Homo sapiens: one gene and its partner. The protein of the gene in region 1 interacts with the protein of each later gene in a pairwise test. Each region holds a gene or a part of one and is shown in the gene's direction. Other genes may lie near its edges. The genes, in order: GABPA and PINX1.

Region 1 (4,035 bases):
AAGCTGCCATTTTTGAGAGTTGATACAGATTGTATACATACAAGTCCCCTCAAAATTACAGGTAAATTGTTAGAGTTAATAATTAAGATGTCAGTTCCCCCCCAGATTGATCTAAGTTTCAGTGCAGCAACTTAGTTTAATTTGAAAAATCAAACTAAGTTTTTCATAGAACTTGAGAAGATAATTGTAAAATTTACATGGGACTATAAAGTACCATGGTAGTCAGGACACCTGAAGATTAGCAAAGTGGAAAGACTTGTCCCACAGGATATTGAGACTGACTCTAAAGTTACAGTAATAAGACAGTTATGCTATTTTCTCAAGACAAATAGGCCATACAGTAGAATAGGGAGCCAAAATAGAACCAGGAATATGTAAGCATTTGATTTAAAGAAATGGCAGTGGGGAGAAAACATATGAGGAAACGACCTGCTTTTCAATAATCAGTGCTGGGATAATTTACTCTCCATCTCTGGGGAAAAGTAAAAGTTGACCTCTTGCTTATGCCGTACCAAAAATCAATTCCATGTAGCTTGTAGCTCTACATGTAAAAAGTAAAATAGAAAAGGATCTAGAAATACTTTCATAACTTCTGGTGGTAGGGAGACATTTAAACAGAATCAAAAGGACTAATTCTAAAGGGAAAGATCAATAAACTGGACTATATTTAAATTAGGAATTTCTGTTCGTTGAAAGCCTTATTAAGAGAGCCACACATGTCGGACAGAAGTATCTAGAATATCTAACCAATTCTTACAAATCAATTTTTTAATGGGCAAGAGACTTGAATAGACACCTCAGGCTAGAGATTATCCAAATGGCCAATGAATATATGCAAAGGTGTACGGCCTCATTAGTATTCAGAGTAATGCAATTGAAAACCATAATTAAATGGTACAACTCACCCCCTAGAGTGGCTACAATTTAAAAGATTGCCAGAACTAAGCTCTGTTGAGGATATGGAGCAATGGGAATGCTTCTACCCTTTTGATAGGAATGTAAATTGTAACAGTTGCTCCCCTAAGCAACTGTTTCATACACATCAAACAGAGATGTACTTCTATGCCCATACACATGTTCATAGCAGATTATTTATAACATCCAAACCCCAGAAACAACCAGATATCTATCAACAGTAGAGTGAATGAATCATTTATGGTATATTCATACAAGAATACCTTGCATTCTTGAAAACTAAGCTCCTGCTACAAACAATGACCAGTGAACCTCACAAACATAATGTTCAGTGACAGAATCCAGACCCAAAAGACCAAATTCTGTATGATTACATTTATTTAGTAAAGTTCAAAAAACAGGAAAATTAAATTTCAGTATTTAGGGATGCATGTTTGGGTGATAAAAATATAAAGAAAAAGCAGTCAAATTACTATCATGATACAGGCTTGTGTTTACCTTTTAGAGCCAGGATTTGGGGAGTGATTGGGAGGGGACATAAAGGGGATTCTAGATGCTGGCAGTGTTCTGTTTCTTGACCTGAGTGATACTTAACAGGTGAGTGAATGTTCACTTTGTAATAAATCACTGAACTGTTCACTTCTGTGTCCTTTTGTTTGTGTGATATATTTGCAATTAAAAAGTTTAAAAAAATACAAGTTTAAAAAAAAAGAGGGAAGAAAAGAAATCATATCCATGAAATACAGGTATTGTGTATCTTTCATTTTAGGGAGGCAACAAGTGGAATAAATGCTACTATATACAGTTGTGTGATGCATCTACTAGATCAAAAGAAGTATTCAGTAAAATTCAAATTTATGTGTGTATATTCTTTTTTATCACCTCTTACCAAGAAATATGATTATGCCAACTCCATTTTCCTCCTAGAATTATAAAACCTCTTTCCTTTTCCATTTTCCTTTTTTTCCCCACGTATAGTCTTACATATTAATGTAGAAATTTTTTAAAGCAATTGATATGCCTATAGCATTTTTAACTGGATGGCAAGGAATTGTTGGTTTATGAGCTGAAATCCAAATTCTGTACTAATGTAATTGACATAAATGGAAACTACAAGACTGCCCAATGTGTTATATCTCTTACTGGGAAATCAAACATAACTATTTTTCTTTTGCTATTCTGGAATTAGGGAAAGATGACAATTTCCTGTATATAGGTCAGTCCTTTCATTAATAGACTCTTGATTAAGCCAAGTGACTTTTATCCTGCTAAATGTGATAGTTTATATCTGGTACTTTTGCAAATAGTTGTTTCTTTTATAATAGCCCTTTGTCAGTGGGCAGTGCAATTTTAAAATAAGGGCTTTGCAATCTGCCAGTCGTGGAAAGAGCTTGACTTGCCTCTTTTTCCTGTTGTTGGAATTAGCAATACATAGTGTGTGTTTAAATAAAGTCTGTTTTCCAAAGGAAACATAAATCCAGCTCCATTTGCATCTCTATAGAATGCAGCAGTAAACTAGATTTCTAGAATGATTGCCGGAACTCTGCTTGTGTACGTTTAGAAACATTGTCTCTTTGCAATGTCCTTTACCTGTTTTTCTGTATCCTCTGTTTCTTTTAGACCTTTTCCTTAGACTTAAAGCTCCCTATTGGGCTTGGATAATTTATCTGAAATTTGGAAAGCGTTTACATAGTGAAATAATAAAGATGAAGACATGACTTCATCATATAGGATTCTTTACAAGACAGAAAAGAAGTGGAATATATGTATTAATTTTTTTTATATTATCGATTTTTATTAACATAGCTTATATTTTGTAGAGGGCTGTGTGCCAGTCATTGTATACTAAGCACTTTACAAAGATTATCCCTTTAATCCTCAACAATGATATGAGGGTATAAGCACTGTTAACCTCACTTTATAGATGAGGAATAAAAGCTTTGAGAAAATATGACTCCTGTGGTCTCAAAAATGTTAGGTTTTGAATCTTGGCTTTCTGACTCCAAAGCTCTTGTTCTTAGGCTCTTCTACTGCTCTCAAGGTTTTTTGTTTTGTTTAATAATTATTTTTAAATCAATGTTTTATTCTAATTGTTGAAAATATGTTTTGAAAGTTTAATGTATAGAGTTTTGGAGTAGTGAGCATTGAAATTTTAGTAAATAATGTTGGGATGTTTCATTTGATAGTAGCATTAAATATTCTACATAGCTTCAATATTAATTGCTATTGTGGCGGATGCAGTACTCTACTAGGCTTCTGCTTATGGAATAGTCTGTAAATTATTGTAAGAAGTCTCATTTTTTCTGAAGTCTCTAATTTTTTTTTCTCTTTTTGAAGATATTATTACGATGGGGACATGATTTGTAAAGTTCAAGGCAAGAGATTTGTGTACAAGTTTGTCTGTGACTTGAAGACTCTTATTGGATACAGTGCAGCGGAGTTGAACCGTTTGGTCACAGAATGTGAACAGAAGAAACTTGCAAAGATGCAGCTCCATGGAATTGCCCAGCCAGTCACAGCAGTAGCTCTGGCTACTGCTTCTCTGCAAACGGAAAAGGATAATTGAGCCCCAGGACATTCTGAGACTCCAAAGTCTTTCTTAAAATGTTTAGAGCAAGTATAGCTCTTACCTTTATTACTGAATTTGAATCTTCTTTTATTTCTAGGCTGTACAGTCTGATGCATGATTTTTTTATAAATATTTCATACTCTTGTGAATTTGGATCTTTTTACTTTGAGCATATATTTTAGAATATGTGTATGTTAAAGGATCTCCACAATGTCTGCAGTGTGAAGGCAGGTTCATTGTGGAATAGTTTAACAGTCAGGAAGGCTAAACTGGTCAGTATTAATGTGTAGCCCTACCAAAAATAGCCAGTAGTATCTGAAAATGAAAAATAAATGAAGTATCTCTAGGAAACAGTCTGGCTTAACTATTTTTGAAAATATAACTGTTTCCCCTCTCTGCTGCTTTAGATGTTGCTTTACATAGAACCAGAAAATGGAATTTCTCAGCTAAAGCATGTGTGCCTGTTTCATCTAATCAAGCAGAGCTAAAATGTTCATACCGAATAAATTTATATTAATAAATTACTAAACTAAGAGTATCAGGTTATTTAT
Region 2 (3,500 bases), on another chromosome or scaffold:
AAAGACCAGTGGTTTTCCATTGTCTTTAAAATAAAATCCAAATTCCTCCCGTAGGTTATGTGAGATCTAGCCCCTCCGTCATCCTACTTCCTTCATTCCTTAATTTGCAGAAGCCACCCTGGGTGCCTCTGAGGTTTCCCAGTACACTGAGTTTTTTCCCACCTTCGGGTCTTTGCACTTGATCTTTCCTTACCTGGAAAATCTTACAGATGAGTGCTAATTGATGCAGAGGACTTAGAGTCCTCCCCCATGTTGCTTTGTGAAAGTATTTAATGGAGAGAATCATCAACTCAGAACACCTGCCGTAGGCATCTGTGAGTTTTGTAGCAGTGCTCTGCTTCTGAGTATCAGTGAGAGGAATGTTCTAACTCTCTGTGTTTAATCTCCACAGGGTTTAGGGGCTCAGGAGCAAGGAGCCACAGATCATATTAAAGTTCAAGTGAAAAATAACCACCTGGGACTCGGAGCTACCATCAATAATGAAGTGAGCAGCAGTGTGTGCCTCCTGGGTGTCTTTGCATAATTGGCTTCAGTCTTGTAAATCTGAAAGTTGATTGGTTCATCTGCTTCTGACCATTGGTGCAGCACTTCTTTTTATTCACGTTTCCTCTTGAACACTGACGCTTTGAATGCATGGCACTATAACTCAGAGTCAGTGGCCTACCGCGCTTTTTATTTTTAGTATCATTGTTCCCTTTTGGAAAGGATCTAAACTGAAAAGTTTTGTTTCTAAGTTTTTGCAGCCAACATAATCTGGTAGGGAATCTGGGAAATTACTTTAGGTAAATTGAATTACTTTGGTTAGTTCCGTATCTCTGAGTAGTGGATTGGCGGAGCTAAAATTTTTAGCCACTAAAGAAAGAGTTTATATAAAGTTGATTTCAAATGTAGTTGTTGAGGGATAGATAACACAGATATACTTATTTTCTTAGAAGAAGCATTGCCCAGTAAACCTATTTCATATTCCTTTACCTTAAGCATTCTTAAAAATTGCTAAGAATGTGAGTAAGGCAGATTCGTACACTGAAACCCTGCTTCCCACTGGTTTGGGAGATCTTCATTCTCTTATAAAAGCCAGGTTCATTTTTTTATAATAAACTTATTAGGTAACCACCTTACAAATGGGAACTCATCGATTCAGGGGACTTAAGGTTCTTCCTCCTCCCCTTCCTCAGAGTTTTGTAAAATTGGAGTTGATGCAAGTCATTAGAAGATTTTAATTCTACCAAGCAAAGAAGAGCATTTTTTTGTCCCGCATGGTTCTTGTCCTTTCAACTATGGAATTTCCCCTAGTGAGAAAAAAATAGTCATTTCATTATGTTTTACTTTAACATTTAGCACACAGGTTGCCTGTTGATTATTTACTATATATTGACTTGATCGATAAGTCATTCACATTTGAAATCAGGCCTTAAGCTTCCAGGAAGCCCCTTTTTAATATTGACCTGGATAAAGAGCATTTTAACTTTATATTATTTCTTGAATCCACTTAAATTTATCAAATAGTATTTTGATGGAACATTTAAAATTTCTTAATTAACCACTGGATTTCCTTGATTCCAAAATGTATCATCTCAGTCAGTGTAAGTAAACTACAGGCTTACCTCTCGTTCATTTCTTTGATATTTTCAGGACAACTGGATTGCCCATCAGGATGATTTTAACCAGCTTCTGGCCGAACTGAACACTTGCCATGGGCAGGAAACCACAGGTAGGGAAATCAGATGACATAAGTTCTCAATGCAAATATGTTTATCTACTTTTTGTTTTTTGCTTTTATTATTTTTAGTTGACACATAATTATACATATTTATTGAGTATAGTGTGATATGTCAATACCTGTGCACAATTTGTAATGTACACATGTGTTATGTTCATCAACGTAATTAGCATATATATCACTTCAGACATTTATTATTTGTGTTGGGAGCATTTAAAATCTGTTCTTCTAGCTATTTGAAAATATAAAATAAAATATTATTTATTATAGTCACCCTACAGTGCTATAGAACACTAGAGCTTTTTCCTCTTATGTAGTGGGACTTTTATATCCATTAGCCAATCTTTAGCTGTTCCTACATAGCTGTTTTCCTTACGCAGCTCTAATAACCACTATTCTGCTGTCTACTTTTATGAGCTCAACTCTTTTAGCTTTTCCATATGAACGAGAATATGTGATATTTATCTGTGCCTGGCTTATTTCACTTAATGTCCTCCAAACTCAACCATGTTGCCTCAAATGAAAAACTCTCATTCTTTCGTAAGGGTAAATAGTATTCCGTGGTGTGTATGCACCACATGTTTCCCAGTTCATGTGTTGGTGGACACTTAGGTTGATTCCATATCTTGGCTGTTGTGAATAGTGCTGCAGTGAACGTGGGTTTGCAGGTACCTCTGCAACATGCTGATTTCCTTTCCTTTGGGTAATGCCTGGGAGTGGATTGCTGGATCATATAGTAGTTCTATTTTTAACTTTTTGAGGAGCTGCCGTACTGTTTTCTGTAGTGGCTACATCAACAGTGCATAAGAGTTCCAATTTCTCCATATCCTAACCAGTAATTATCTTTTATAATTTTGATAATAGCCATCCTAATGGGTGTGAGATGATGTCTCATTGTGATTTGGATTTCCATTTCCCTAATGACTGATGTTAAGCATCTTTTCATCGCTTATTGGCCATTTTTATATCTTCTTTGAAGAAGTGTCTAAGTACTTTGCCCATTTTTTAATTGGATTTTGTTGTAATCTGCAAGCATTTTTATAAACATTCTTGTTTATGAACAGTCTATTCCTTGTGTGTCATGTGTGAATAATCAAAAGATATTTGGTAGATTGAAAGAATTTTGTGGAGTGAAATAATGAATTAGACTTGAGTTCAGCAAACATTTATTGAGCTGTGTGCTGGGTACTAGTTTAGGTGTGAGGATCTGCAGAGGTATAAGACACAGTCCTGCTTGGAGGTAGCTAGCAGAATATGCTGGTAATTACCTGGTAAAATCACAGCACACATCTAACCATAGGAAGGTTTATTGCAGTGACGTGTGTGGAAGTGAGCCCAACAGTGTGAAGGGAAAGGTGCTTTGTTGGTATTTTTTCTAACCAGATTGGACTTTTTGTTGGAATGTATAACTTGGACAGTTTTCCTTATCCATAGGATCATGATTTTGAAATAACCTAACAGTTCTGTGTGTGGTCCTAATATGAAGGGCAATAATTTATTAGCAGAAGAAAAAGATAAGGAAAATGTTTTCTGAAAATACTGAATGACTCATATTAGGAAATGCAGGATCTATGAAGTAGTAAAGTTCAAGGACACTATTCCTTACTAATTATACACAGAAAACATCTTGATATTTACGATCACAGTTGAACTCAGTAGAAACACAGATAAGAATGTAAGCTTGGCTGGGCACGGTGTAATACCAGCACTTTGGGAGGCTGAGGCGGGCGGATCACCTGAGGTCGGGAGTTTGAGACCAGCCTGACCAACATGGAGAAAC

Evidence for each region.
Region 2: the proteins of GABPA (region 1) and PINX1 interact in a two-hybrid assay, tested with the Homo sapiens proteins (one large-scale study listed by BioGRID and IntAct).

The regions. Positions count from the first base shown.
Region 1 is NC_000021.9:25,765,752-25,769,786, forward strand, and holds part of GABPA (GA-binding protein alpha chain), read left to right. Parts: intron 1-3,252; coding exon 3,253-3,481; 3' UTR 3,482-4,035.
Region 2 is NC_000008.11:10,829,876-10,833,375, reverse strand, and holds part of PINX1 (PIN2/TERF1-interacting telomerase inhibitor 1), read left to right. Parts: intron 1-391; coding exon 392-484; intron 485-1,632; coding exon 1,633-1,711; intron 1,712-3,500. UniProt on the Homo sapiens protein: Microtubule-binding protein essential for faithful chromosome segregation. Mediates TRF1 and TERT accumulation in nucleolus and enhances TRF1 binding to telomeres. Inhibits telomerase activity. May inhibit cell proliferation and act as tumor suppressor.